3 separate regions of the Homo sapiens genome follow, and all the other regions are linked to region 1. Evidence: fine-mapped expression QTL. A gene starts in region 1. Each other region holds a variant in brackets. All regions are shown on one strand. Distances are between the middles of the regions. Region 1 holds the start of SGIP1 (SH3GL interacting endocytic adaptor 1). Region 2 overlaps SGIP1 (SH3GL interacting endocytic adaptor 1). Region 3 overlaps SGIP1 (SH3GL interacting endocytic adaptor 1).

What was found. PIP is the estimated chance that this variant, and not a neighbour inherited with it, causes the effect.
Region 2: its variant is the best candidate, but not a certain one, in a credible set for the expression of SGIP1 in visceral fat (GTEx, PIP 0.63).
Region 3: its variant is the best candidate, but not a certain one, in a credible set for the expression of SGIP1 in fibroblasts (GTEx, PIP 0.54).

Annotation. Positions count from the first base shown.
Region 1 is chr1:66,527,985-66,538,508 of GRCh38, forward strand. SGIP1 (SH3GL interacting endocytic adaptor 1) reads left to right here and starts at 6,169. Exons shown (of 25, transcript NM_032291.4): 1 at 6,169-6,384. The coding sequence starts at 6,375.
Region 2 is chr1:66,645,039-66,655,562 of GRCh38, forward strand. All of the region lies in intron 7 of SGIP1 (SH3GL interacting endocytic adaptor 1), which reads left to right. Among named protein-coding and RNA genes, the nearest start is that of MIR3117, 22 kb to the left of the region's middle. RefSeq lists an enhancer at 4,097-4,266. The variant A/G (reference allele first, on the strand shown) is at 4,363.
Region 3 is chr1:66,702,741-66,713,264 of GRCh38, forward strand. The region is part of intron 18 of SGIP1 (SH3GL interacting endocytic adaptor 1); the gene reads left to right. Among named protein-coding and RNA genes, the nearest start is that of DYNLT5, 44 kb to the right of the region's middle. The variant A/G (reference allele first, on the strand shown) is at 6,131.

The sequences.
Region 1 (10,524 bases):
TATTTATTTTTCTTCCTAATATTTTGGCTAGCATCCATAAAATAGTATTAAATATTAAATAACGGTGATGATAAAGAACAATTGTCTTATTTTTTATTTTTATTCTTGATAATGAAAATGTTTTCATTATGTTTCCATTTAAAAAATGGCCTATTTGGGGTCAAGATATGTATTTTCACCATCCTGGGGAAGTTTTATATCTCTTTCTTTGTTAAGATTTATTTATTTCATGAGTGATTTAAGTTGAAATTTATCAAATCTCTTTTTGGCAACTATGAAGACAATTATATGCTTCTTTTTAAAAGCTTAATATTGTAAATTATATTAGTAGACTGTTAATGTTGAATTATTTTTTCTTACTTTTAGAGTAAAGTCTAATATAATATACAATGTTCTTGAAAAGCTCTATTATGTTGGCTGTCATTTATTTCAATTTTTGTATCAATATTCATAAGTAAGATTGAGCTATATTCTATTTTTAATTATTTTTGTCATGTTTTATAATTCATAAGTTGAAGCTTTATGGAGCTTTTTCTCTTTTTCCAGTTTCTTGAGCTGTCAAAATTGCATCGGAGTGATTTGATTCTCCAAAGAGAGAAAGAATTCCACTATGCTTGGGACAGTTGCTGTTGTTGTAGGTTTATGCTTCAAGCACATAGCCACTGGGCTATCAATGTTCAATCTTGGCAGTACCCATTATATCACTGCTTATAGCTATAACATTTTTAAATGTTTAATGAGAATGTTTTTATTACTTCCATGCACTCTTTCTGGCTCTCAGTATGCTCTTTTATCACAGCAATCTGCTCTTATTTATTGCTGCTGTATCTCTGAAATTATATCAAAACTAAAAAACAGATTTTTTGAAAAATGCCTCTCAAGTTCTCCACATTTCCTCTGCCTCGGTGGGGACATTTCCTATGCTTCAGTGAGCTGTAGTTATTTTCCTTCTCTTTTGAAACTGTTGAATTTTCTCATAGATTCAGTGTTACTGCTTATCTTTATCAATGTAGGTCTAGATTAAGCAGTACTCCCAGCTGATATAAATTCCTTCAGCACTCATGTAGCTATGAACACATGGCTCTTGGGATGCTCATAGTCCAATGGGTGAAAAGCATACAAGGGCATGTCTTGTCTTTGGCATAAGTGGGCCAGCACATAGAGTCTTCCCCCCAGGGAAACAGGAGCATGACTACAGGTTCTGCTGGTTTCTCTCTGGATACAATCATATTATGGGTTCTGTTTGCCATAGAAACTTGTGTGTATATATATATAGTATACACACACACACACACACACATATATATACACATATATATACACACATATATACACACATATATATACACATATATATATACACATATATATATACACATATATATACACACATATATATACACATATATATATATACACACACACACATACATAGGCACAGTAGTCAGCATATGACAGTCCAATGTAAGTTTTGGTTTAAAAAAAATCTATCATGAGAACTCATCAACATGGCCCCCAGTGACTGGTTTGAAAAGTGAACAATGATCCAAGCCAGGTCAACCACAGTCCTTCCCTGGAAGTTTTTTGAAGGAGATCTAGCCTAGTAAATCTGTGAAGAGGTGAGCTTAGAGGATGCTAATGGTCAGGCCTGATCATGTGGAGAAAAATTAGTAAGAGAAAAGGAGATGACATGCTGGAAGAGACAGAGAGAGTTCTGAGTACTTGGTTCAGGTAACAAAATTTCCTGGATTGTCCTGGTTCTTGCTTTCCCTCAGCTGTTCAGTTCTTGCTATAATTCTATGAGCTACCTCAATAAATTCCATTTTTGCCCATGTTAGTTGAAGTTGGAGTTCTTTTATTTCAGCCAGGAATAGAGTAACTATGGGAACCCACACACACACAAATATATGTATCTCTTTTTCATCTATATCATCTCATGGAATTCCAATTTTTCAGTCTTGCCAATTTCCAGGACTTGGGCAACATATTTTTCCATCTACATTCACTGAATTACCTCAGTGGGGATAGCAAAAGGGGCAGAGTCAATTGTCATGTTAAGAGCACTACCTTGGAGATACACAAACACATACACAAATCTGGATCCATATTTTAATGCTAATTTTCTTTCCTCCTTTCTTTGTGACTCAATTCTCATTGTCTTCTTTCTCTTTCTAAAATATAAACAAATTTCCCCTTCAACCTAAAATTGGGAGATAGTGAAGAAGCTCAGCTTTTATAGTAGGAATATAATAAGATTTCATTCTGAAACACTATGTAATCAGCCATTACTACCATACAAATGTTATTTTAGAAAAAATGTTGAATGTCTAGTGACTTCAGCAATTTAGTTTTTGGTCTTGGACCAGTCATAAGTACCATATCAGAGCCTGGTATGATCTGGGTTGACATTCACATCCTGAGCTGAACTCCTGAGCAATTCTTGCACTTTGATGCAAGTCAGTTATTTACCCAATCTTTTCCATATACCATTTGACTTTCATTTCAGAATTGCAAAAAGTATTCCATGGTTTTGGAGGCTAGATATTCTCCTTTGCCCTTGCTGGCAAGCAAAAATTATACGATGAAGTGATAAAATTTGAACCACAACCTAAAGTATTGTCTTTGTTCTTGATCAAAACAATTTTTTTTTCAAAAACCTATGAGAGGCCAGGCATGGTGACCCACACCTGTAATCCCAGCACTTTGGGAGGCCGAGGCTAGTGGATCACTTGAGGTCGGGAGACCGAGACCAGCCTGGCCAACATGGTGAAACCCCTTTCTACTAAAAAAAAAAAAAAAAAATCAGGTGGACATGGTGGGGCATGACTGTAATCCCAGCTACTCAGTTGGCTGAGGCAGGAGAATAGCTTGAACCCAGGAGGTGGAGGCTGTAATGAGCCAAGATCTCACCACTGCACTACAGCCTGGGCAACAGAGTGAGACTGTCTCAAAAAAAAAAAAAAAAAAAAAAAAAAAGAAGAAGAAGAAAATAAAAAGAAAAAAACCTATGAGAAAACACCACAATTAGGATAATCTCTTTTGATTACATATTTGAGCAAATTTTATTGAAACAGAACTTCATTCATTGGATGTTCTATTGGATATGCTATTGGTAATAGCATCTTCTTTTTAAAGGATAAAATACACACAACTGATGAAGTTGCGGTGAAGTTTAGCCTTTGGGATTAGCTTTACCACCTTGAAATACACATCCCTTTCTGACAATATCTACAAACTTCTGCTTTTCCTATAAATAGTCATTGACCAAAAGAATCTTTCCATTGACTTGCTGTCTCTAGATAGTTGCTGCAAGTCTAAAAAAACTTGAAGTGTACCCATACCAAACCTATCTGAGAGGATTGCTCTAACACACTGTAAAACTTACATTGGGAGGAAGAAGGCAGGCAGCCTGGGTTTCTCCACCTTTCCCTTACATCCTAACAATGGCCCCCACTCCTGCACCTCAGTGCTTGCACTCACCTCCAGATTTTACATGATACTTTTTTCTTACTTACAACTCCCTATATTCTTTAGAACTACCACTTCAAGCCCATTCCAATTAAGTTCTGAACTCTGAAATTTCACCTCTGTAAAAAAAAAAAAAAAGTCTTTCCTAATTAACCTCATTAGATTTTGATTTCCTACTTAGCAGCCTTTCAGAAATCTCCAACATGTTACATCTTTGGATGCATCACCTGGTCTTTCACTAACTTGTTCTCTGTGCATTTGGTACAACTCCCAGTTGGCTGCAAACTTCTTTGATGCATCTGCCAGCCCTTTGGTAGTAATAATACTAATACTAAAAAGCTAACATGCAGGTCTTATTATGCTCCAGACAAAATGCTAAGTAATTTACTAGCAGAGTATTTGAATACTGTCTGGCACATAGTAAGCCATTAATACAGGTTTGTTATTATTACCATTTATAGCTCAATTAACTTGGCATTATTATTCTCTCCATTTCAGGATAAGAAAACTGTGAGGCACAGAGAATTACATAAATTGCTCAGAGTCACAGAGCTCATTATGTGGCACAAACAAAACTTGGTGCCCATCTATTTGACACGAATACCCATCAATGTTCTTAATCATTACAAAACATTTGCTAAACACACACACACATGCACACACACACACACAAATCAATCCTTTTTGCAATAATACCCCTCCAGTTTTCAGAGCAGTGTAAGTTGTACTCAAGGCAGGTTTTACTTAGGAATTCATTCCCCTTTTAAAATTTAACTGTCTTAGAGACATAAGAAAAAAGTCACAAGTATTTGTATCTCCCTGAAGAATTTCATTTTAAAATTTAGAGGCCACTGAAGTATGTGTCCTTAGGGAGAACAATGGGTTTTTCAAAACTTCTAAATTGCTAAGGAGCTGTGTTTTGCTTTTCAACTATTAATATGCTACTTCAGTCAGTCACCAGTACGTCATATTTGCTTTGGTAGAAAGAGCTAGGCCATGTCCAGGGCTGAGCAATAGAAAAAGTTCATGAGTATATTGCTAATAGAAATGATTAATAATACATTACAGGCTCAACCCTGATCATACCATGCATCTTCTTCCAGTTATTTTGAGTACATTTTCATTGGATGCTCACAATTGCTCTCTATTGTAACAGCTTTTCTCCTGGTCATACTGTGAGATTATACAGGGAGAAATGCCCACTTCTGATGTTGTTTTTCCTGAGTTCTAAAGAAGGCGTTCCCTTTCCTCCCATCTCCTTTCCTTTTTCTCTGCCTTCTCTCTCTCATAGGCTGCCCTGCCCTTTTCTTCCTTCGCTGTCTGAGCTTTCTTGAAGGGAACCAAGGGTCGTAGATCCCCCAGGGCTGGGCCCTTCTGAAAGGCTCCATGGTCTCTGGAGAGCAGTCAGGTGACAGACTGAACCCAACCGGGCCCAGTGACACAACTTCCCACTTAGGCAACTACACAGCCCCCAGATCCCATTCCTGGCAGCTTCAAAACCCTGGGCTCCGCCACAACCAGGCACAACTGCCTCCCTCCAGGTTTCCACTTGGGTGAATGAATAGGCTTGAAGGCGACTCCAGATGCAGGAGGCGCGTCGCGGAGAAACGTGTCATTTAGGAGAAAGTTTGTTTCCTACAGAGACTGCAGTTGGCAGCTGCAGCCCCAGTCGGTTGCGAGAAAAGCTCCCCACCTGGGGAAGCGAGGCCGCTCCCGTGTGCGCTCGGCGGGGAGGACGCGGTGGCGGCGGGACTCGAACTCGGTCGTCGAAGGGCGCCCCGCAGGGTCCCGTCTGTAGCCCGGACGGCGAGCCCAGGTTGGAGTGGGAGGGAGCCGGCGTGCACAGCTGTCTTTGGTCGGGCTCAGGCTTCCGCTCCCTGCCTGCTCCCCTTTCCAGCCTCCCGCCCCAGAAACGATCTCGAGCGTTGCCAGTTTGATTCCAGAGCCCCACTCGGGTGGGTTCTTTTGTTTCTTTGTTTTAATGACAGTTCCCAGCCCTTCAGCATGTCATGCGCAATTAATTCCCTGGCTCTCACGAAGGCAGCTGGGGTGAAATTTCTTCTGCATCATCCTTTTGGGGATGTTTATGATGTGACGTCAGTCGGATTGATTTTTCTCTCTTGAATGAAGGATGGGAGGGGAGAAAGAGAGACGGAGAGAGAGAGAGACGCACAGATGTGCACGGAGGCCACAGACACTGACATTTGGAATTCCTTCAGGGTAAAAGGACACCGGAATGGGAGCTTAGAAGTGTGTTGCTAAGATTTCCGGCTGCACGGAATTATTAAGTTTTTCTTAAAAAAACAAAAAAAGAAAGAAAGAAAGAAAAAGAAAAGAACCCCCTCCGCAGCGAGCCACTTAGGTGCTGCTTTCACGCCAGAGTCCCCTGTTAAGGTGGCAGCCCTTGATAACTAATCTCGGGCACCCAGCCGCTTCTGTAAGCTTAAGGAGACGACGAGGAGGGGCGGGGGAAGTGCGTCACCAGGTGGGGAAGGGGCTGTGTATTTGGTGACAAGCGGGAGGCGATGGGGGTGGAGGGGAATGGGGACGGGAAATAGGTTCTGTGTGCTCTCCGGGGGTATTGTGTCAGGAGATGCAGGCTGGCTACCATGTGACGCGGTCCAAAGCTGAAGGGATTGGCCGAGGCAGCGCAGGCGGTGCAGCTCGGCCAGCTTGCCGTTCCTCTCCCTTTCTCTCAGCATCTTCTTGGTAGCCTGCCTGTAGGTGAAGAAGCACCAGCAGCATCCATGGCCTGTCTTTTGGCTTAACACTTATCTCCTTTGGCTTTGACAGCGGACGGAATAGACCTCAGCAGCGGCGTGGTGAGGACTTAGCTGGGACCTGGAATCGTATCCTCCTGTGTTTTTTCAGACTCCTTGGAAATTAAGGAATGCAATTCTGCCACCATGATGGAAGGTAGGATGCTTTCTGCTATGGTTGACTGGCTTCAGGCAAGGTTTGGGCAGAACAGCATTAAAGAATATGTGCAGCCAGTGTATGTGGCGGTTCTAGAACCTGGTTGCCAATGTTTTGCAAGCAGAAATGCTGCAGTTTGCTTGCAGTGGATCTGGGCTCAGACTAATGGAATCAAACCACAGGGCTGCTGCCTAGCTCAGAACCTACAGAGCTCCCAGCTCCTTTGAGAGAGAAAAGCCTAAAGTGTTTGCAGGGAGCTGAGATGGAGCTAGGAAAGAGCTTGCAGAGCAAATAAGTTGGGCGAGAAGATAAGGTTTTCTGTTCTGGGTTCCTGGGACTACACTGATTAAACATTTACAATGGAAACTTGTTTTCTGAAATTGACATTAGACAGGAGAGGTCATTAACAGAGTTATCCATACAGACATTTTCAGTGAACTGTTTAAAATTGTAAAAATTCTCATAAGGTATTTTTATCTCTGCAGTTTACATCATATTATTGGGATGGGGAGGGCAGCAAATTTGGTCCATAAACTGTAGTTGTATGAGAATGTCATTGCAACAGAATGAAAAATATAAGGAAAATATCCGGGCCTCTTGCCTCCTGATTCGGGGTCTTATCAGGTTAAAAAAGAATTTTGTGCTCCCTAAATGCTTTCCCTGTCCAATGGATTTTAGCCAAGTATCAAATGATTATTTGCTGATGATCTTTTCGCATATTCAATATTGAGTGTAAGGAGGAACTTTCCCTGGAGAGATGCTATTTAAACTATATTTTATTCTGCTAAATTACCCTTCCCAGTCTGACACTGTGACAGCCAAGATTGTCTCCAAAAAGCAGCAAGCTGATCAGGAAAGAAGCAAGCAGCTCTATGCAGGCTTTGATTTTCTGTTTTCACACTATAGGATGGTGCAAAACTCCTGGCCTTTCCTAAGATGACAGGCAGAAATTTGTCCCCAGCCTGGATTTCACAATGCAGAATTGAGTGCATAATGGGTCTCAAATCAGCCATGAAAATGGCAGAGAGGCCACCTCTTAAGCCAAGGTTTGTCCTACGGATTTTAACTATTCCTTAGAAATTTACCAAAATGGAATAAGAGGAGGAAGGTTTCATAAAAACAGCAGTGTAGCCTGTACTTATTTGGCAGAAATGAATTCTTTTTGCTCTCCCTGTCATCATGTCAAACATTGTTAATGTGATTTGGGGGAGTGAAGAATTCTAGAGTCAAAACCCACAGATTTTAGAAGATAGCCTTAAAAGAGAGGTTGGGTATGATTTTGTTATGGAGCTGAGTCTTGTTTGCAAAAGGCTCTCAAGCTAGCCCTTTAAATCCAGGCCTAAATAAATTGAGATTGCTAACACTCTCAGATTAAATCATTTTCATTAATTCAAAATTGATTTAATCTTTGAATAACAAGGCAAGACAGAGTGTTATTTATGCACTTTTCAATTAAAAGCTCATGTGGATTATCTTCTTCAGAAAAAATATCTTGCCTGTAGAGGTACTGTATTTCTCCAGCTCAACTTCATATAGCTTTCTTAAAAATGCATCTGCACACATTCTGATTAGATTTCAGTGTTGCATAGAGAATTGGATGCTCTTTCTTTTCACTTCTTGCCTTGCAAACCATGGCACTAAAGTATCTTCTTTGAAGGTTGTAACGTTTTTTGATGCTCATGAATGATTCTCCTGGTAATATGGTCTATTGTGCCATCCAAGAATGTCAGTTCAAAGCTCTGTGATAAGCTTATCCAGGCTGCCTAAACCAAAATGAGAACTGCAACAAAGACTTGTGCTGGAGCTGAATTAGCACTATTGCTCTGGGTTTGCCAAATTTATCTAATGAACAATGTTATCTTAGCACTGGTATGAATTAGTATGAATTATACTATGGATACAGTTGTCTTTCACCAGATCTTTTGCAAGAGAAATTGGACAGGTGTTCCCACTGGCTTAAATAGCTAAATGAAATTAACATTTATTTCTACCCATAGCTCCTACTTAAATGTTTTTAAGCCTTATTATCTTAATAGTTCGGTGACCTTAGAAAGGCAAATAGGAGTTTAACCAAAAATCAATTTGCTATCAGTTGCCTTCCAACTTAGTTGACAGTCTTTTTGGCAATATACATTCATGTTTCTGGTATTGCATGGCAGAATTTCACCTCTGAATTGCTCTTATTCTGAAGGTGTGGTATATAATTATTATTTCAACTTAACTCATCTCTAGAGATTGCCAGCCTCTGTACATCTACCACAATAACCTTGGAAAGATAAGGAACCTCATAAAAGGCACCCCAAATTTGTCATGGCAGCTCTTCGTTGAAACATTAGTGGACTCTGAGAATGTGCTACCAAACATCTAGTTAAAATCATATTTCTTCTGAACTAGTGTGTCTCACACACACACAGAGTCATCCACCCAAACACATTTCTGGAAAGGAAGAAAACATATATTTGCACTCGTGTGGCTGTACATTTCTATATTGCTAAAGTGTTTTAGTCTGCTGCTCAGAAAAAGCATGGCCATGGCAACTTTTCAAAGGCACTTCTCTACTTTGTGTAAAGCAAGAGTAAACAAATATTCAGCAGAATGGGTCATAGTAAACTACGTTTTGTTTGTGTGGAACAGGATATAGGCTCCATTCATTCAATGCCTATTGGAAATCCATCCAATCATAGATGATAAATGTTACTACCTCCTCAGTGATCCTAATTTTGTGGAAGTCAACGAAATAATTCCCCAGGGACCACAAGCAGGTGATTAGTGGTTTGTGGCTCCATGGTTCTTTTAACATATTTTAATTAAAAAACATATTTTAGGGGACTTGATTTGCTGCTTCCTGCATACTTTATCTTTTGGCAGTGGTTGGCATTGAGTTGTTTCTTTTCTAAAGAAAGCCACATGATCTGGAGCCTTCTGTAGTATAAATATGAAAGGAAAGATGATGAGCAAAGGGAATTATTAACTATGGAGTGTACATATTGGCTAAGCTTACAATGAAGTCTATGTGGTTAGGGCAACTATTCAAGGACTATTTTTTGATATATTATTATTAAAGTTTGAAAATGGCATTCTTTAGCTATCCTTTCTAAGATAACTGGAACTAAGTCAGAGTTTCTTGGGCTATCTGTCTATTTGTGAGGGTGTCTAGAAAGTACTTTCCTTGTTCACGTAGGCCCAACTGAAGGCGTTTTGCGTTTTTAGTTCCATATTCAGGCTCTTAGGTGCTATACTAGAAAGATAAGTTTCTGGGTGCCAATGGTTTCATTTTATATGACAATTTAAAAAATTAACAAGCAAATATTTTTAAGGGCTTACTGGGTTTAATTACAATATTCAGGATAATTTAATATATTTTATTATATTTACTACTCATAATAACCTGAAACTAAGTATATTGTATATACGGTGCTTTTTTCAGTCCTTTTCTACCTTTCAAAAGTAAAAATAATGCATTGAGGCAAAAAAATGGTGGAGTGAAATTTGAACCTACATCCATTTAACCACAAAGCTCATGTTTTTGACCCTCTAGGAACCTCTTAGTTTTGCTTTGCATCAGGTTGGGCATGTTAACCTAATTGAAAAATAGGCTGTAGTGCCTTTGGTTGCATATTCTGTGTCTCTCTGTTTTAAATATGAATATTGACAGAACTATACTCTTTAACTTCTTATTAATGCCTTTTATGTCCAAAATCATTATTTAAAAAATTTTGCATAATTGAAGAGTAACTAAACTTCTGTTGTTGCAATAAACCTTATAAACACTAAGAACTTCTTCTTTTCCTATCTAGAAACAGAGTTTTACTAAAATAACATTTGGAAAATTCTTTGGTTTGGTCAGAAAAGAGCAAGACATCTTGAAGCTGGAGCTGTTCATTTTGTATTTAGTTAAGAAGTTTTAAAGGGAATGCTTCTAATTTTCCTACTGATTCTCTTCTTTAAATGATGAAATTACTTTAGAAAATCTAAACATGCAGATAGAAGATTCCAATATATGTTCCATCACCTGTGTAATTTCTCATCTTCTCCAGTGTTCTGTATCATAAAGAACCTCTTTAGATATATATGTTCCCATCCAAATGTCAGGGGTCATCTTTATACTTCTAAAAAGAATATGGAGTCTTTAAAAAATTA
Region 2 (10,524 bases), 120 kb after region 1:
AATAATATTTTTTACTGAAAATCTCCTTAAATGTCTAAAACCAGTTTACAGCCATGTCTGTGCAGTTTATTTTATTCACTTCTCTGAGTTTGTTCTCTGTGTAATAAACTGGCCCTTTGGAAGCTACCTGGGGTAAGTAAAAGAAGGCAAGTTCAGAGGATTAAGTGAACACATTTATGTGAAAGCAAATGTACCGGCACAGTCCCAGAAACATAGTGGATGTTTGCCGGAATGTAGCTGAATCCAGGAAGGAAGAGATTCCCTCTTTTGAATGGAATATGTATGCCTAAGTTTTCTGGTAGCTATTCCTCCAACCAGATACATTGCTAAGGATGCAGCAAAATGTGGTGGTTTACTCTAAGCTCTTCTCAACATCTATTTTTAAGGAAATATATTGACATGATGTGGTTAAGATTCTGATGAAAAAATGTTAAGGGAAGCAGAGTGAAAACTAGATGGAGACACCCAGAGAGAGTGACCTCGGAGTTACTCTGTTTCTGCAAACCAACAACGCCACAGACCAAGGGACCCTCAGCTCCCATTCCTGCACCCACACCTCCAGTTTGTTCCCTGTAATGTGAGAACCTGGATCTCCTATTTTTGTGATTCCTAAATATTTATAATTTTTCATAGTTGGTGTGGAAGAGTGAGCTGTTACTACTTTAGGAAAAGGTGAGCAGGTTTCTGGATGTACATGAGTTTAAAGAGAGGTTGTAACTGAAAACATATTCTTGGCTTTAGAATCTTTGCCCTCTCCTTGATAACCCGTGTGTAAATATAGATAGATATAGATATAGATAGTTTTGTTGTTGTTGTTGTTTAGACAGAGTCTTGCTCCGTTGCTCAGGCTGGAGTGCAATGGTATGATGTCGGCTGACTGCAACCTCCACCTCACGGGTTCAAGTGAGTCTCTTGCCTCAGCCTCCCAAGTAGCTGGGATTACAGGCACGTGCCACCATGCCTGGCTACTTTTGGTATTTTCAGTAGAGACAGTGTTTCACCACATTGGCCAGGCTGGTCTCGAATTGCTGACCTCAGGTGATTCGTCCGCCTTAGCTTCCCAAAGTGCTGGGATTACAGGTGTGAGCCACCGCACCCAGCCATGTACATATATTTTATAAATGACATATGCAGCACTTCCTCTCCAGAGCCAGATAAGCAGAAATAACCTAAAATCCAGCTGGTGCCATGATCAAAATGACAATGATTTTGGACTTTCATGTCTCCAGCCAAAAGAGCAGACAATTATACATCTATACTTTCTTCAGGCACTAAAAAGGAAATAGGGTCTACACAAGTTAATGATATATCAGAATATTTTATTTAAACTATGGTTTTTATACTACAAAAGCATCAATCATTACATTAATAGAAATGAGGAAATTTCAAATAATAAATTATTCATAACAATGGTTTACGTTGGACTTCTGATTTATGTTTCTTTTGAAGTTTTTAAGATAAAGTCGTGCCTCACTTATTCTTTTCATTTATTTGTTAATATGTATCCATGAACTATAACCAATTTGATCTCTTTTATCATGAATTGGTTTTATTATACTTGAATAGTTTCGCTATATATATTGGGCGGTCAAATTAACGAATGAAATGAAATGGGAGGAATGAATGAATCATATAATTATATGTATATACAATATAAACTTATCTGAAATTTACTTCTCAAGACAAAGTGTCAGAAGCAAGACAAATCAAGATTTTAATTGCTGGCAACAATCCTATTGTACAGTTAGACAAATAAACAAAATTTTAGTCCAGATTTTGCCTTAGCCCTTGATTTTGATATAGAAATAAAATATAATGTTGGCCAGGACAAGGCAGAGCACCAAAAAGGCAGAAGGCTAATGCAGGAGTTAACTCACAGGTAAAGGATAATAATTCTTTTTCTTATCATGTTCCAGCCTGCTGATAAGATACCAAGCTTACAGGGCAAAGAATGAACATCACCCAGGTTTGCCATCTGGTCAGGTTGATTTGGCATCTGTGTAAGTTAGAATATTTGTTAAGCTGTTTTAACAGAGACCAAAATAATAATGGCTTAAACAATATAGGTGGTTTCTTTCTCTCCCAAGTGAAAGTCAAAGCTGATAGACAGTCCAGAGGTAAAAGAGTCTTACTCCAGTGGTCATTCAGAAACCCAGGAATTTTCTGCATTATTGCTTCTCGTTTCCTAGAGTAGCACTGCTGCCTTACCACTGCAAGTACTTCCATGCACCAGCCTTGGGATGGAGGAAAGAATAAATAAAAAGCAAGTGGTTTTCTTTAAGAGTTTAACTCAGAAGTTGCGCGCATCACTACCACCCAGATCCCACTGCCACAATTTAATCACATGGACACATTCACTGCAAGGGAGTCTGGAAAATGTAGTGTTTTGCTAGATAAACATGTAGTAGCCAGCTAACATTCGGGGTTTTATTACTAAAAGACAAAAGAACAAATGGCTATTGGTGGACTTTGACAGTTTCTTCCACTGGGTCCTGAATTATATTGTATCTGCATCTTAAGGTTAGAATTAAGTAATCTCAGATTATTTCAGAGAGTTCATTAGGAAACGGGATTTCTTCCCATATATGTTTTAAAATATTCCCAGTACCTATTAAATCCAGAATGTTCTAAAATAATTTTCTAATCACTAATTTATAAATACTAGTGATACCGTGCTGCTTGTTAGCTAACAACAGGTTGAACAGAGACACTCCAGTGTCCCTCTGTTTATGCAGGTTCACTGTTTTTTAAGGCAGGCTGTTCCATTGCTGAAAGAAAAGTCTTCCTTTTATTAAACCAAATATGTAATTTTGTCCTTGATTGTAGTTGTACTCTTTAAAGGATGAACAAATGGTAAAGCCCCTTCTTTTACCAGTGAGTTTTCAATGAAGCAGAATGACTCCAACTCCAAGTTCAGTGTGCAAGATGTTTTTTAAGGAGTGACCTTGGACTTAATACCTGTGATGTGGGGTGGGCAGAGGGAGAAGTTGAGCTGCTTTACACAACGAACAACAGCCTGAGCTGATCCCAGGGAAACTCAGGAACTAGTAGGAGCCTTCAGAGTTAGTGTGAGTTTGGCTAAGATGAATAACCTTGATACTGCTCAACCAGTCAGTGCTCTGATGTGGGCCACACTAGGAAGGGGCATGCCCTTGGGTTAGGTAGCTCTCTGCAGTTGAGGCAGATCCTGAGGTGCTGACAGTTGAAGGCTGCCAATAGCCCTCCCAGCAACTGGTGCAAGGAAACCTTCTGAAGAAGATTCTGCATGGTGCATTTTGGTGTCCATCCCAAATTCTCTGTTCTTGACATAAGGCCTAGTGTGTCATTGCCATTCAATTAATGCTTGCAAGTGAGTGAGTGAGTGAGTGAACAAATACATGAATGGAACCAGGCTAAGGACACAGAACCATGGCATGTCACCACCCTCCAGTTTTACAACCATCCACTGATAACACCCTTCAGCCTCCTTTGTTCACCACACAATGATTCTCCTAACTGTGCCCTAATCCTGGGCACATATTTTCATTCTTTTTTTCCAGAACAACACTGCGTTTGAGAGACCTGGGGTGTCTATGGCATTGCCTAGACCTACCAGGCCAGAAACCCTATCAGAGAGAGTGATAGGTTCAGTTTGCCCTGTTTCTTTGCGCTGGCACCTAGGGTTATCACCTTCTTTTCCAAGTGCTTTCTGGCTATCTGTTTAAATATTTTGTTCTAGAATTTTGGGTTAATCACAAGCCAGTGTGTAGTAACAGAAGGCACATATCACATAGATTCAGATTGTCCTGGGCCCCAGCCCAGGTCGACCACTTTCTACCTGTGTAACCTTAGACAAGCCCCATAACTGTTCTGATCCTCCATTTCTGCCACTGTAAAGGAAGGATGATAAGAATCCTTAAGGACTTTTTGTGCAGAAGATCCTAATAACAGTACATGATGTGTAATTGGTACTCTGCAATTGTTCATTTCTTCATTACTTAACCTAGATTCTTTTAAAAAAACCACTTCTCCTTTTTTGAGGGTCATGCTCTGCTTCCCCATGTTCAGCCTTCTGACCTAACAGCATACTGTGTTTTCATGTCCTGGGTTAAAATGTATCTACATCTCGAGGCTAGAATTCTGTTAAAGCAGCTTGGAATTCTCTTGCCTGTCTCAGACTTTAATTCTGAGCCAAATCTGATCTGCCTTTTAGAGGAACTACTTTTAAGTTAGTTTTCTCCATCTTGGACAATTATGGTTGATTTCTCTTTAAACACAAACAGAAACTTTGTACATACCCCCTGAAGGAACTGAGGTACAGTGGGAAAAGTGCCAGCCCTGACCTCAGCCTCTTGCTAGCAGTACTGCTTAGGTAAGGTACTT[A/G]AACCTCAGTGAGAGTCTCAGTTTCTTTCTGTCTGAAATGGGACAAACAAACAGCTACCTTACAGGGTGGTTGTTGCCATGGTCATCTCTTTCTGCTAGTGCAGTGTAAAGACCACTCTCCCTAAAGGAGGAGATAGAGACAGATGCAACACGAACAGTTCTGTGGTTTGCTTGCCTTTACACCACACTCTTTACATTTAGGGTAGAAGCAAACCTCCATTATATCATACAAGAAAAGGCTTTGTTCTTAAAGAGTAAAATAATTTTTGAAGGAGGCTAAATAAAATAATCAGTGCAGGAATTAATTATAAGGAAATATGACTTCACACACACACATGCACACACACAAAAAAAATAACCAAAGTCAGAATTCAACATACAATTGAATTGAATTGAATACAATTCCCTTTAAGATAATTTGAGGGAAAAAGAAATGACACTTACTCCAATGATGTCCCAATTACTCAAACAAGAGGGTTCTACCTCCTTTTAGTTGATGACTTTTGGTATGTTGAAAACCCAGTGCCTTGGTTTCTTCATCTATTAATGGGGTGACTCCCATACCTACTTCATTGGGCTATTTTGAGGGTTGAATGATTTAATGTATGTAAAGTACTCCTAATAGAAGCTACATGTAAAGATTGTCTCATTGCTATAGAGCCTAGGGCACATTTTAAAGAATATCATTAATAGTGATAAATAACTCAAATTTCCAAAAGTAATTTAGAGCCAAGACCAGTAATTAATTACCCATTAATTACCCAAAGCATCAAACTGGGAAAAGGTGTTTTTTGTGATGCCTTTTGAAGACAATTCCAGAAGGAAGTATCCCTAAATTGTTTTGAGTACCATCAACATCCCCTGAATACATATGGTACTTCTTCGGGAGACTTATTGAAGGCTAACATTCACAATGGCACACTTCATTGTGCATCATGGATAATTGACTTTATTTCTAACTCCCCCTTCAAATCATTTCACAAAATATATGTTGAGCACCTTCCATGTAGCAGGCACTGAGAGCTAATACCAGAAATACTGAACAGTCTGAGAAAACAACATCTAGTAGCAACCAGAAGCTGAAATTTTTCTTGTGGTTCAAACGCTTGCCTGTCTTCACTTCAGTTTCCTGATTGGTTTTCTGCAGCCCACATTCCCCCTGGCCTCCATTTCTAGGTCTCCTGGCTTGCTCACCCTTCCTAGGGTCTCAGATACGGACATCTCCATTCCTTCCAAATCCCACACGGAGCACTGTCTGACACATCTGCACCATGTGCTGTGCTCAGCAGGTACCTTAAAACCTGTGGCTCCCATGGCTTTTGTGGGAGTGAGAAGACAAATGCTATGGTTTAATCTTTGATGTGATCTTTTCCTTTTATAATGTGCTCCCATGGATTCCTTTATTTTTGTTTTTCAGAGAGCCAATAATCCCTTCTGGCTTACCTTGAGAAGGTGTCTTTTAACTACAAGCATTTTGTTCCTTACTGATTAAGATACTGTGCTCTGGAGTAAGTCAGAACTAAGTTTGCATTCTGACTTTCCGTTTATTATCCATGTAGCCCTGAGCAAATTGCTTAACTCTTTAAGCCTCAGTCAAGGCTTAATCGAGTGTAAAATAAGGTTAATAATACTGCCCACTTCATAGGATATTTGTAAGAATTAAGGAATGCATATAAGGTGCTTAGTACTTTGTAAGTAAATTTATGTAAGGTCTAAAAGAGGTGCTTAGTAAATGATAGCTATTATTAATCAGGATAACAATAAAATATCAAAGTCATCCTTTAAGCTCATTGATGACTTTGAGAACTTATCATGGTGATGAATTTGGTAGTGGCAGCTGTGAACACGAGTGCTGTGTGTCACATACATTAATTCATTCATGCTCCCAACAACCTGTGAGATCAGTACTATTGATATCCCCACTTTACAGATGAGAAAGTTGAGACATTGAGGGATTTATTATCTCACTCGAAGCATCACAGCTAGTAACTGAAGTTGCTGGGATTTAAACTCAGAAAGTTCTGTTTCTAATTGAGAACTCTTAACCACTATATTACACTAGTTTTGATGAAAGCCATTGACTCTCTTTCTAGAAAAAAAAGTTCACTAGCTCATTCAAAATATTTTACATACAATTTCTGAATGCTCACATGAAATAAACTCTTTGAAGGATATCGATGGATGCTCAAAGGGCCCATAATCCCAGCCCAAAGGGCCCACCTCACAGACTTTCTCCCCACTGAGTTCATCCACATCCACCCATAGAAGACCATCCAGTCTTCTATGGTACAGCACTTCCTATATTGTACCACATGACAGGAGAGCGAGGCTGAGTTGACACCTTGCCAGGTCAGGCTTAAATGCTGTTGTGTGATATGTGATTTCTCATTTATTAAAATTATCTTATTATATATGCAGATTGTTTGCACTTTTGTTTTAAATGTTAAGGAATGATGTCCATTTTATATGGCTCATTTATTTCAGTTCCCCTAATCAGTTAATCAATTGGCAAGCACTTTTTATGTCAATGGCATATTATAATAATGCTATGTTTTATAAATGCCCAGTCATGATCAAAAGGATGAAATGAGTAGCAGCACTATTAAGCAATCTGGGAGGTAGTGATGCCCCTATTTTACGGAGAAACCAGCACAGAAAGATCAAGAGACAAGGATAAATAGAATGAACACAGGCTTTTGAGTATATATCTTATTATCTGTGTGGTCATAGGCGAGTTCCTCAACTCGGAGCTTCAGATCTCATGGCTGTAAAATGGGAAAAAAATTGTGTCTACCTTCTTATGACATGAGAAAATATTGTAAAATACCCAGTTCAGTGCTGTCTCCCAGAAAAGGTGCCATTAAATATCAATCACCTTCTCAGCTTTGCTTTCCTTTTCCTTAAGTTCAGAGACTTGTAGGAGGCAGAAGGAAAATAAAAATAGCGAGGGAGGACTTGAGCAAACTCACAAGGGCTGAGAGAAATGATGTGAGAGCAGGAGCTGACCTACCCTGGCGTGTAGGCTAGTGCCTTCTCCCTTCCTCTGGAAAGTAAGTGGTACAGTGAAGTAAAGAATCTGACATTGAGTCATGAAGGAACAATTAGTTTAATCTTCATCCTGGAGATTTGCAATGCATAACTTTTTAACCAAAAAAATATGAGGAGGGGGAAATAGCTTTGAACTGGAGACAGTCTGGTGTTGTTTGCCTGTTCCATGTGGCCCACCCACCCTTCCACCCCCAAATTAGCCTGCCAGAGAGCAAAATTCATGAATTTGCCGCTGCTTGGTAACACCACCCCCTTTCCTGTCCTCACTTCAGCAGAAGGTTCAGCACCCCATTGAGTTCAGTGAAAACAAAGAGTCATCAGTGGAGGAGGTGAGCTCCAGTCTCCTACACACCAGCATTCTCTCCTGGTAGAAGCAGTGCACAGTGCAAGGAGAGGCTAAAGATTGCATGCATTCTGATGCAAGGCACTCAGCCCAGACCTCTTATTTAGTAAATTAGAAGGCAGAGGTTCAGCTTGAGTTCTACTCATCAAGGAAAGCTTCGTAGGGCAAATGTGATTTGTATTGGTCTATACCAGGGATATCAAACATGGGGCATATAAACTGCCACTCCATCCCCAAATCTTCCACAGACATTGCCACTAAATCCCAGACATGGGCTTAGAAGCCAGCCCCCTCTAGACAGACCTGCAGGCAGCTGGACAAAAATCAGCTAGAGTTAACACATGAGACGCAACTTTTGTTTTTCCCAGGACTCATAGAGGATAGATGGGAAAATAGGTGGAAATTTTCTTTTTCAAAATATATTTTTTTCTTCTCAACATTTTAATAAACCATGGACTGTGTGCAGAAAATTAGTTTTGTATCTGATACATGCTTTTTCTTTCCTTCATTACTGATTTTTTTTTCCCTAGGAAATTTTCTGTTGCTTCCATTTCCTGACATTTAAAATCCACACCTTTCATGCCCACCTTACTCTGGTAAAAAGAAATCCCTGAGCTGTATGAATATTTAGTATTCAACCTGGAGTGCCTTTGTCATGATTTCTCCAATTAATGTTGGTTGTACCTTCTCAGTAGATGGTATTTTGCTCTCTTCCTGAAATGTAAGGGTTAGATTTTTCTTGCATAAACACAATTCCTACATCATTTTATACTGTCTGGGCAAGCTGACCTGATTTGAGGGTTCTGGAAACATGATCACCATGGTTGGAGATCACAAACACTCAATTTCTGTAACAAAATCAAAATTTCATTGAATAAGGCTGTGTACTCACAATATTGACACATTGTATAAAATGTTAGGATGGCCTCAGTAGAAGTAGCAAATTATTGAATTACATGTTTTTTATTATAATGTTAATTGCAATCAAAAAACGCTAACTTTTATACCTTTAAGGTCTGCCTTGATGTTAAATGTTAGTAGCATTTAGAATTTAAAACTATTTTGATTAGCTAAGGGCCATAGTCAGGGTAGAATGTGCTCTGTAAAGAAGCAACCAATTTTGAAAGTAAGTTTTTTACAGAAGCCTACTTTGTGAACAGTTTACTGAATGTTGGGTTTCTAACAACAAATCTTGCACCCAGAGCTTGTAGGTTGTCTACTTTTTCTCTAAGGAGGCATTTTCTCTAGGGCCCACAGCAGTGAATGACACATAGTAGGTACTTAGAAAATAATTGTTGATTGTCTGGGTGGATGGATGCACCACGGGACATTATATAAAATGTATGCCGTATCTAGCTCTGCTATAATGCAACTTACATTACTTGCATTATTTTACAAATAGAGCAAATTTATGGTCTCAGTTGCTTTGATCTTTTCCTCTTCAACTTAACCAAGTTTCTTTTTTCACTACTTGATGGGTGAACAATAAGATCAATAATTTCCTGTTTCTTCCTCTACAATGTGTAGGTTCTTTAAAAAAGTTTGTTAATGTGTTCTTTTCTGTGGGTCCTAGTGCACATCCAGTGAGATTGTTTTCTCATCTAAAGCCTGAGGTTTTCAGTCATTTAGTTGTCTTCAACCTTGAGGGTCACTTTATCAATGATTATCTTTCTTGTACAATTATACTTATTTTTTTACTAAGGAGTTTCTACAAATATGTGAATAATAGTATAAATAAGCATAACAGTATAAGAAAAAAAAAATCTATCCCTTTGCCCTCTGAAGGAGATTTTGTTTTAGTGGCAGCAGTCTACAGCAGTAAATGTACTTTTTATTGTTTTAGAAAAAAAAATCTTACAGTGTGAATCACTCATATTAATTATGTCAAAAAATTTTTCCTCAAAGACTGGGGAGAATGTCCTTTCTAAACAGAATGAAGGTGATATTTCCTTCTGACTTATGTCTGTCTAAAGGACAGCCTCTAACTGCCCATGGACCTTGGAGCTGTAGCTTGAAATAGCAGCCAGCACAGAAGAGGTGCAGAGCTGTGCCTGCCAGCCAAGCTGCCTGTCCCAATGTGGGCAACAGAGACAGAGGGCAGATGGACTGGCCTCAGTGTGTTTTGCCCAACTGAAACTCCTTTCCACTTTGTAACCTATTTGAAGCCCATCTTTATTTCATTATTTTTTAAACACAGCACAGGGAGAATCAAAATGAGTTTCCAAAGAGGAATGACAAATGACAGCACATATCATAACCAGGTATTTTCTGATATTTTTTCATCCATGCCTCTTCTCAACACCAACAGTTACTAAATGTCCACACCTCAGAACTCCTGATAAGTAACAGCAATAAGCCGCATTGGAGCAGAGTAAAGCCAAAATCTTCACGGTGGTCTTCAAGAGCCTCATTGTCAAGATTCCCCCATCCCTAGACTAACGCCTGCCATTCTTCCCTCTCCTTCCACTACTCCCTGGCTCCCTGGGAGCCCTCTTCCCCTAGATAGCTGTATTGTGACCTCCCTCAACAACTTCATCTGTTTGCTCAGTCACTTTCTCAAGGAAGCCTACCCTGCCCACCTTATATAAAATCGCAAAACCCTTTGCCCTGGAATTCCTGAACCCCTTTATTTGCTCTACTTTTTAAAATTGCATTTGCCGTCTTCTAAAATACTAAATACTTTCCTTATTTAATTATTACACAGCCGTGTGTTGCTTAATTGTTGTTAGGCAATTTTATCATTGTGTGCACAACACAGAGTGCACTTACAC
Region 3 (10,524 bases), 170 kb after region 1:
ATGGTCCAAAACACACAGTTGTTTCTGAATATGTCTGTCATACAAAGGCCAATAGGTTTAAAATAGATAAACATTGGGCAACATTTGCTTTGCTCAAGATTGAAGCCTTTCACTCCCCAGAGAGGAATGGAACCCTGAGTGTCAGCTGCACTTCCCTGGGTGCAAAAGTAGATTCTAGAACAGGACTTCTCATCTGACTGGAGTAACCAAATGGGGAACTAACAAGAACAGCGGAAAGTCTTGAGCCCCACAAAAAGAAGGGTTGCTATGCGTGGACAATTTTAAAACCTGAAGCATAAGTTAAATAGTTCCCTGGAGCAGGAAAATGAGTAACAGAATAGAAAAGTTAAAGAATATTCACTCATTTATTTTTGCATTCAGTGCTTCACAACCAGTCCATGAGCTCTTCTAGCTACAAGCCCTTGTGCTGGAATTATGGAGGTGAAATAATAAAACTCCTGCCTTCCAGTAATTCACAAGAAATAGAAGAATAGAAGAAAGAGAAGAGTTCGGCACTTCCTATGCAAAGCATCCTGTAGCAAAGGCAATGGTAGAATTGCAAAAATGTTCTAGTAGGGTGATGGAAGAAACGGGAGCAACATTTATACCTACATAGACTCTACCCTGAAGCAATATAACATGTTGCTATGTTAGAGTCTAATAGAAAATCTTAGGTGATATGTAAATGTTAACCTAAGGTATGCTTGGTATTATCCTAGTATTAGAAAGATTCCTCAATTAATGCATATCCATTTGCTCTCAGTACACATATACATACATATGCACACACACACACACACACATATAGAGATAATAGAGAAAAAGATATGGAATATATATATCATATATATGATATGATATGTATCACACATATATTCTATATCATATGTGTGATATGTTGACATACTGATATAGCATACATACTATATATTGTATATCAGCTATATCACATTTATATATGATCTATATCATATATATTATATATGATCATAACCTACAGTATGATATATATCATAGGTTTTCATATATGATATATAATGTTTTTGTATATGATATATATGAAATATGGAATATGAATGATATATGGCATATCATAGATATTTCATATCACATATATAAAGAGAAAAAGAACTCTGTGTGTGTGTGTGTGTGTGTGTATGCGTTTATGCATGAGCTCTGGAATAAGCCTTCTAGATCTTAGTTATAACCTCAGCACAATGTGTGACTTTAGGCAGGTTACCTAACCTAAGACTTAGTTTCCTCCTCTGAAAACTGGAATAATAATGGCAGCTCTTTCACAGGGCTGTGGTCAAGATTAAAGTCAAACACTTAGTATAGTGCATGCAAAGCACTCAAATATAAGCAACTGTTGTCCAACTTCATGCATCCTCTGCTTGTAACATGGCTGTGTTTTACTTAGTTCTTGCCTGCTTTGGAGAAGTTTCAGTTGTGGCATTCTTGTCTTCTTCCACATAAAAATCTGACAATTTGATTCTGCTGAGAGTTGCTACATGGTCTCCCTTCCTTGTCAGCAGGGATGATAAGCAGTGTTTTCTCTGCTGGTACGGAGCAAGACAATGATTTGGAAGCATCATGCCACTGCGTTGCTGTACACCCTTTGCCTCTACCAGAGCCCATTATTAAAGCTGACTTGTTGAGACTAATGGTCTGCCTGCCAGTGTACTCCTGGGGGTTCTGTGTCAACACTGATGGGAGATGTGGCAGAAAATCTTTTATCCTCTCTTTTATTAAAGGATTTGTAAATCATAGCATTTCTGCCAATTTGACATATAATTTCAAACTTCCTGAGAAAAGAATGGAGAAGCTGAGAATTCCAGGGGGAAACTGCTTCATCTTTGGATGGTTCTGAGCCTTCAACATGCAATCGCTGGCTGATGACCTCTATAGCGTTTGTTTCTATTATGTCTTTTGAGAAGAGCTGTCCACAGACTTTGGCTGCCTACCCTATTTCAAAATACTGTTCTTATTAACCTCTGACATAAATGAATGAAGAAAGTATACTAGTGATTCAAAGAGATTTTATTAAGACTCAGGAGAATCTCCCACTTATAATCCTTTTTATGTGTCTGCTGTGGATATATTTAATCAGCACCACATATACTCCAAACAAATTTTAGACAATTACTTGTGAAAGGCTTTTGCAAACTATAAAGTACTATTCAAAAGTAATCATTTCCTAAGATAATAGTTAGTATTAATGAATATTTAATATGTGCTAGACATGTGCTAAGAATTTTATATTAATTGCTTCATTTATTAAATCAAAGATTGGCTGAGAGACATTAACATAAGGCATTAACATAAGTCACTGTCCTTAAGATTTGAACCTTTTTATGTCTTCAACTATTCTGCACTGTGTGTGTAATCATTTCTGCTACAGCGTGGACTGTCAGCAGACAAAAAAATTTCATGGACTTTGTGTTCTCTTCTGCTGACTTTGCCGTACCAAGTCACCAGGACACAAGTAAATATGGCCTTGGGGCTTCTTTTCTTGCTGACGCATATTCACACAGGCAGCGTGTGCTGTGTGTGTTTACAACTGTGTTTCTTAGTCTTCTATTCAGAGTAATAACAGCATGACTTCCCCTAAGATCTGATTCAGAGAATTGAAATATGCCCTGAGAAAACATAAGAGGTTTTTCTGGAGAAGTGTCCCAAGGGTAATATTAATTGTTCAAGGATGTTTCGGAAAAGTTGCAATCATCACTGTGGCAAATGAATCTAGGGAGAGGAAGCATGAGTTATTTAATGTCAGTTACTCCTTTCCTTAGGTTTTTGCCTTTTTTTGGACTTTACACACAGCCCATTTGCTATGAAACTAGCAGCTCAAATAGCAGGCTTTCAGGCAGGCAAACAATGGCAGACTGCATTCTTCCTACTTCTCCAATCATATTTATCAGTCCCATTGGGAGAATAACTTTCAGTAGTGCTCAAAATTACCAGCATCCAATTTGTAACTGCAAGGAACCATTCAAGAAATAAACACTTCAAGAAAAGAAATAAACCATTCAAGGAAAGAACACTTATGGGTTCTCACTCATAAGTAGGAGTTGAACAATGAGAACACATGGACACAGGGAGGGGAACAACACACACTGGGGCCTGTCGGGAGTTGGGAGGCAAGGAGAGGGAGAGCATTAGAACAAATACCTAATGCATGTGGGGCTTAAAAACTGGGTGACGGGTTGACGGGTGCAGCAAACCACCATGGCACATGTTTACCTATGTAACAAACCTACACATTCTGTACATGTATCCCGGAACTTAGAGTAAAATTTAAAAATAAATAAATAAATAACAAAATGTTTCTGAATTCCAGTTATATTAAAACAAAAACAAAACAAAACAAAAAAACTTCTTCATTACTTTGGTTCACAATTTATTTCTTTTTAATGAATTACTGTTTTTGGTAAAATCTGAAATGTTTTTGTTATAATTTGCTTCTTGCTATCAAACCATTTATTTTAATTTGGTCACTCATCTTTATTACCTTTATCTCACATTTTCATCAAATATTTTTAATTTTGAATATATTTTATATTATACATAAAATATAAACTATATATTATATAATATGTAAAATATAAATAAATATTTATACTATAAAATATATTTATATATTTATAATATAAAATAGTTATATATAAAATAAATATATATGATATAATTTATATAGAGATACACATTTATATATAATATAAATTATAAATATTTTAATAAATATTTATGACAGTTGATATTTTAATCTAAATATTATCTTTTCTCTTTAATAAATAAATGTAAAGATGACAAAAGAAAAAAGAAAAAGGAAAAATGTAGAAATCTCAATATTTAAAATTCCAAAGTAATTATCAATATGTACTTATATTTTTTCCTCAGTATGAAAGTAACACATACACATTATAGAAAACTTGGAAAAACAGAAAGGTATTTTTAAAAAGATCTATAATCAAATAGCTGTAGATGACCACTATTATCATTTTGATGTTTTTCAGTTCTGAGATTTTGCATGTGAATGTGAGTCTGCGTGTGTGCATGTATAGTTTATATTATCACACAGTGTATAATTATGCATCCTTTTATTTTAACATACGCTAATATTCCCTTTGACACTTCAAAGTATTTACAAATAGCTCACAGTTGGCTTTATTGTGATCATGACATTAATTTAAGCATATTATTACTTTTAAAAATTCAAATATGGGAAAGTATAAATAAAAGAGTAAATATCACCCCAAAATCACACTATTCAGAGAGTAGTAGAAATAACATTTTTGATGTTTTGGTGAAAATTCTTGATGAAACCCTGTCTGCATGTATCTACACACACACGCATGGGCACACATACACACACAAATATGTGTGCTGCATTTACTTGATCCCAAGAAGCCATACACTGGGTTATGCTCCATTGTTTTCACAACTTTTTGGGCACGAAATAAACTTTGTCAAGTGTAGAAAAGCATTTTTTTTTCTAACCAATAATAATAGACAAAGTGCTGGCCACTATCTTCAGTATAACCATCAGAAACTGAGCCTAAATCTATTTCATATTCAGAATCTGCAGACACATCTGAATCACTTCTGGCCATCAGCAGTTACAATTAATATCATAGTGGCATGATGATTTTTCTATACCACATATTTATAACCTTGACCTCTTTATACTCTTTGCATTGATAGTTTAATTTTGTGACACATCAAAAATTCCAGAATTTTATCTGCATTAGCTTTCCAGAATTTACTTATAAATTATTGCAAAGTAAATAATTTCCTTGAAAGTCAACAAGAAATTTTTGACAGATACAGTTATAGCACCTGAGTGTTCCTTTAGGATGCATGTCAGTCATAACCTACTTGTTTCATCTTTCAAAATTCTGTATCTTAGATTCCAAAGAATGTGACAGTTTCTCCCACCAGCAGTTGCATAGTCTGGTAGATGACTGTTAATTTTCCAAGAGAGTTGATGAGTTGTCCAGGGGCATTCACATCTTTGGCCCTTTTAAGCCTGTAGATTAGTGCTTCTCAAACTTTTTTTTCATTATCCCTCTTTCCTTGCCCAGAGAGCCTCTGTTAGACCTTGTTTTTCCCTAATTGCTCCCCAAGTCGAATTCTAATATCATAGAGGTACTGTACATCTGGTCATGTGCTATATGTATATTTGTGTGCTTTATATATTTAACAAGTAAGATTTCTTTCACCTTCCCCAAAGAACCAATTTTTATCCCCTTTGGGGTGATACTTCTGCTTTGAGAATGCATGCCATGCCTGCAGCTAGATCTCGGATCACAACTTCCTAGGATGTAGGGGCAAACATCTTTAACACAGGGTAGGGTTTAAGAATACAATGGAAGTTAGACCTGGTTTTCAGTCCCAGCTCCCCTACTTACTATAGAGCAAATTACCTTGAGCAAGTTATTTAATTTCACTAAGGTTTAATTTAAAAGAGTGTACCTCAGAGAGATGTTTTGAGATTAGAAGACATGAGGCATGTAATGTGTTTAGCACAGCGGCCATCGTATACAAGTGCTTTACATAAATTAGCTTTTGATATATTTATTCATATTCTTCATAGTGCCATGCTATAGCTGCCTGTTTCCAATGCTTGATCAAACTCTCACCACTGTCTATGTGAAAGTGTTTAAAATTTGGCTGTATGAGTCTTCATACTAAGACAAAGAAAATCCTAAGTTTTTAGACTGAGGAAATCAATTTGAGCAAGTGTACATTCACTTTTCTTTCATTTGTATTATGACTTTGTCTTCTGTCTTATGTTCATATTTAACAATAGTATTTTTGTTGAATACATGTGTTCTGACTTGGATAATAAAAAGCAAGTATAATATTCTCATCTTCTGAGTCAAACATTTTAGGAAGTTAATTCAATTGGGCATTAATTTTGGATGACAGTTTAGGTGCTCTAGGCAAAGACCCAGGTTGAAGAAAAATTCTCTACAAAACATGAAGAAAAATGTCAATTGATTGTATGTTCCTGGACTGAGCAGAATTTGAAAAGCAAAAAAAATATATATGCACATGACATACATATATAACCAGGGCAAGTGAGCAGAGACTTATGAAGAGGAAGACTGGAAATAACTCTAATCCT[A/G]TTTACATACTCAGAAATCCAGTACTCTCAGTTCTACGCTATGAGAACTGACTTTCTTATTTATTTATGTATTTATTTTGGGCATCCATGCATGTTTATCAATCATTCGAATTTTTTTTTCTGTTTGTTTTTGTTTGTTTTGTTTTCTTTACTGTTATACTTTAAGTTCTGGGATACATGCGCAGAGTTCTGGGATACATGCGCAGAACGTGCATGTTTGTTACATAGGTATACATGTGCCATGGTGGTTTGCTGTACCCATCAACCCATCATCTACATTAGGTATTTCTTGTAATGTTATCCCTCCCCCAGCCCCCCACCCCCGACAGGCCCCAGTGTGTGATGTTCCCCTGCCTGTGTCCATGTGTTCTCATTGGAGAACTGACTTTCTTAAGTACACTTTCCTCATTTTCATGAAGGAGAACATGTAGCACTCTGAAAAGCATGTAGCAAGGATAACTCACCCAGTGCTACCATGGGTAAGGACGAGGCCTATGGGGCTCTTATATGGAAAAGTGTGGAGTCAAGTGAATCTAGATTTGAATTCTGACTCCACCATTTACTGGCTGCAAAAACATGGGTAAACGGTTCTCTCCTCTCAGACTCAGTTTCTTGATCTATAATATGTAGTAATGCCTATCTGGACACATGGTTGTAGTCATAATTAAATGATGCATTATGTGTAAAGCATAAAAGACAGTACCTAGCTCATAGCAAGTACTCAATAATATTGTTCCTCCCCTTTTGAGGTTTGCCCTTTTTCCTCTGTATTCTCACTCAGCAGGTCAATTGGTGCTACTTACCTCAGGACAGGAGAAGCCAAGGCAGCACTTAACAGAAGCTTCTTGACTTTTTTAAGCTTCAGTTTGTCAGCTGTAAAATGGGGATAACAATACATCTTTCTTAAAAGTGTGAGGATTTAATAAGGGAATGCATGTGGAACACTTAGCACAGTCCCCAGAATTCAGAAAGTATATGTTCTTTTAGTTCTCATCGTAGCATTATTATTAATTAGATTAGGTGATAGTATAAGACTATCAAAACACTCAAGAAAACATTACATAGAGATACATTTTTATATGCAGCATGCACACACACAATTTACACACATATAAGATATATTTTATATAATATTTTATATAATCTAAGCCAACTACAATCATAATATTCCAAGATTTAGAGAAAAGGGAAAAAATTAAAAATTTATATGTAGTAACTTTATTTTGACTTCTTTTCTCCCAAACCTATTCTAAACATTTTTGAAAAGTTTTTGCTATCATAAAAAGTAACTTTATTAATCATCACTTCAGCTAAGATTCACAATGTCACAGGAGCACACTTACCTTTTCAAGTTAAGCTCTCATGATACAGTTCTTTCTACTGAACTATATAGAAAGAATTTCTACATTTCTTTTTATTATTTCCTCATTTACTAAATGCATCTGGTGCTGAGGAGAGCCTGAAACTGTATGTTACATGACACGACTGTAAGGCAAATTCTTCTTCACTGCTAATGATAATGGCTGCCAAGTTATCGAGTTTTTACTGTGTGTCAGGTACTGTAATTTACATAAACTAATGAAACTCTTTGTCCCAGTGTTCACTATTGGTCACCTTGCAGTTACTGGATTCTGAAGACAAGCAGAGACCACAGCAACATGAAAGTATTTACTTATAACCTTAGTCCTCATTCTGATACACTTTTTCCCAAATTAACACTAGTGTCCATCCCCACCCATTACATGAATGCAGAACCCAATAAATTTTCCCATAAACATCTGGTCATATAAACAATGGATATACCATGCAAATACAGTGCATATTTATTGCAAGTGAAATTGCCAGTCTTAGGAAGGATATAGGATTCCATGAAGTCAGTGAAACTGATGATGTAAAGCTTTTCATCACACCTAAAGTCATTGTCAGTTTAGAATTTAACAGAAATTAAAATTATTAATTACTAAAGAAGAGGGAAAAACATAAGCTTACATCAGAGCCACTTCAAAAGAAAGACAAGAAACTAAGAGACCCTCGGAATAATGTATAAAACTCTCAATTAATTCTGCAATAATGGCTCCATTTATGATCTTGAATCAAAGCCAAACCTAAATCTTGGGTGGTGTGTAAAGCTATTAACATAATTTTATCAGAAAAATATACCCTTCCCAAAAATATCAACACAAACTATTTTTATTCATTCCAAGAACTCAATTATTAATGTAGCTTAAACTTTGTTAATAAAATATCCTTTCACAACTTTAGTTTATGACAGCTTAGAATCTTAATCAAACCCTTCTATCATTATGTACTATGAAATTTTAGTATCCATTTAAAGTACCTTAATTGTTAAATGATTTCTCTGTTATTGACTATCCTCAAATAACAAGAACATAGAACATCCTATATCATCATATTTAATCCTCCCAATGTCTGTAAAAGGTACTATCTTCATTATACAACATGATGAAGCTGAAACTCAGAGAGGTCAGATAATTTTTCAGGGTCACAGGGTAAGGGTAAAACCCAGATTCAAAATTAATTCAATCTCTTTCCAACATTCTTTCCCTTTGTCACTGCATTATGTATAACATATTCTATAAATTACTGTAGAATTGGGTCTCATTTATCTTTTCCTAATTCTAACTAATATAATCAGCTTTTAAAGAAAAAGCTAGTCTAATTTTCACTCTTTGCTGCTTCATACATCTTCTGGAGCGTCGTCTGTCTTCTATGCACTCTGAGACTTTCTGATGTCTCCATCTGTTGGTTATATCCCTGCATTGTCATCCCTGGGCATAAGGGTCATTTGCCTCCTGCCTGCAGCAGATCTGGTAGGGTGGGCAGTTGTTTGGCCTGATAGCCTGCAAAATGGGGACAGTCTTTAAACAAATCAGACCACTCTCTCCTGCTGCCCATGCTTCAGATTGTGTTTTCAGGGTGACTGTTTCCAACCTCAGATGAAGAGAAGGTAAAATATGCAGTTCTTATGGCATCTGGCATTAGTGGTGCAGATCCTTCCTTGGATAAGATTGAGAGCACTGGTATTATTGTCCTAATTTAGCAGAGGTGAAGCTAGAATCATTGACCAGCTCAGGTCAAATATTGAAGAAGCACAGTCAAGACTGAAGCCTACACCCTCTGACACCCTCCTAGACTCCTTATTGCAGATTTTTGTTATCTGAATTTAAGCAGGTTACTTAAGCACTCTAGCTTTCCCCATCTGTAAGAAAGAGACGTTTAAAATAGCACTTACTTGGTGAGATGGTGGTGCAAATTAAGGGAGATAACACATGTGAATCATTGCACAGAATTTGAACACATTACATAATAGATACTACCATTTATTGTTAATTTTGTGACAAATGCCACAACACCCCTGAGGGAGCCACTAGTTTGACATAAATTCACATTAAATGTAAAAACCACTGAAAATACGTTGTCTTCATGAGCTGGCTTTGATGACAGAAAGTGCTAAACTTCAACATTGCAAAGTGGAAGAGATTATACGGAAAATGGAGAAAGTGCACAGGAAGGGGAGACTGGCCTGCCCGAACGCAGGCTTGCTCACTGCACATGATTGGCGGAAGTGCATAGGAGGCAACCTGATTAAACTCAGGAGGTAAACACTCCTTTATTTATAAAGGAAACCTTCTTATACTTGTATTCAATTTCTGTACCTGTGCATTTTGCTTTTTTTCTCTTTCCTCTTTTTTTTCTAATTTTTTCTTTCTCTTCTAAAAAGTCTCTTTCTCTTCTTTAAACACTTACATATACAGTCTGTTCTCCTTCCCCACGTTCATTTTTCATTTGTCTTCCCATGAAATGCTTTCATAAATTAAGGACCTCATCTTTTAAAGATGTCAGATGTCATACTTCTGTTAAGAATTTAAATTATTTTTAGTCTCAGGCTGTCTACATGTGTACATCTGTGTGACCTTGCTTGGTAATGAGAGTCACAGAAAACCGCCTTTCAGAAAACACACAGTCACACACTGGTGACTCTCTGTGCCCTCTTCCATTCCTCAGAACCCCCTCAAAGTGTGCATGTCAATTGCTTCCCAGTACTCTGGAGATGCTTTTTTGTCGGAGGTCCACAGACTAATGGCAGCAACTCATCCTTCTAGGGGGTATCACAAACACGTTATCAGGTTCCTAAGATAACTCTCTCCTGACTTCTATGCTCCTTGAGCAAGGTAGGGAGGAGGGTGGCATCCAGAGTCAGTCAGTGCTTGGTTTGCATCACAGTTCTGTTTTGATTGTTTACTTGCCAGGTGACAATGGCAAGGCTATTGAATTTCTTGAAACCTCCATTTTCTCATCTGTAAAACAAGGGCAAGAATGCTACTTACCTTATAGCACTCATAAACTTACCTTATTACCAGGATTAATAATTA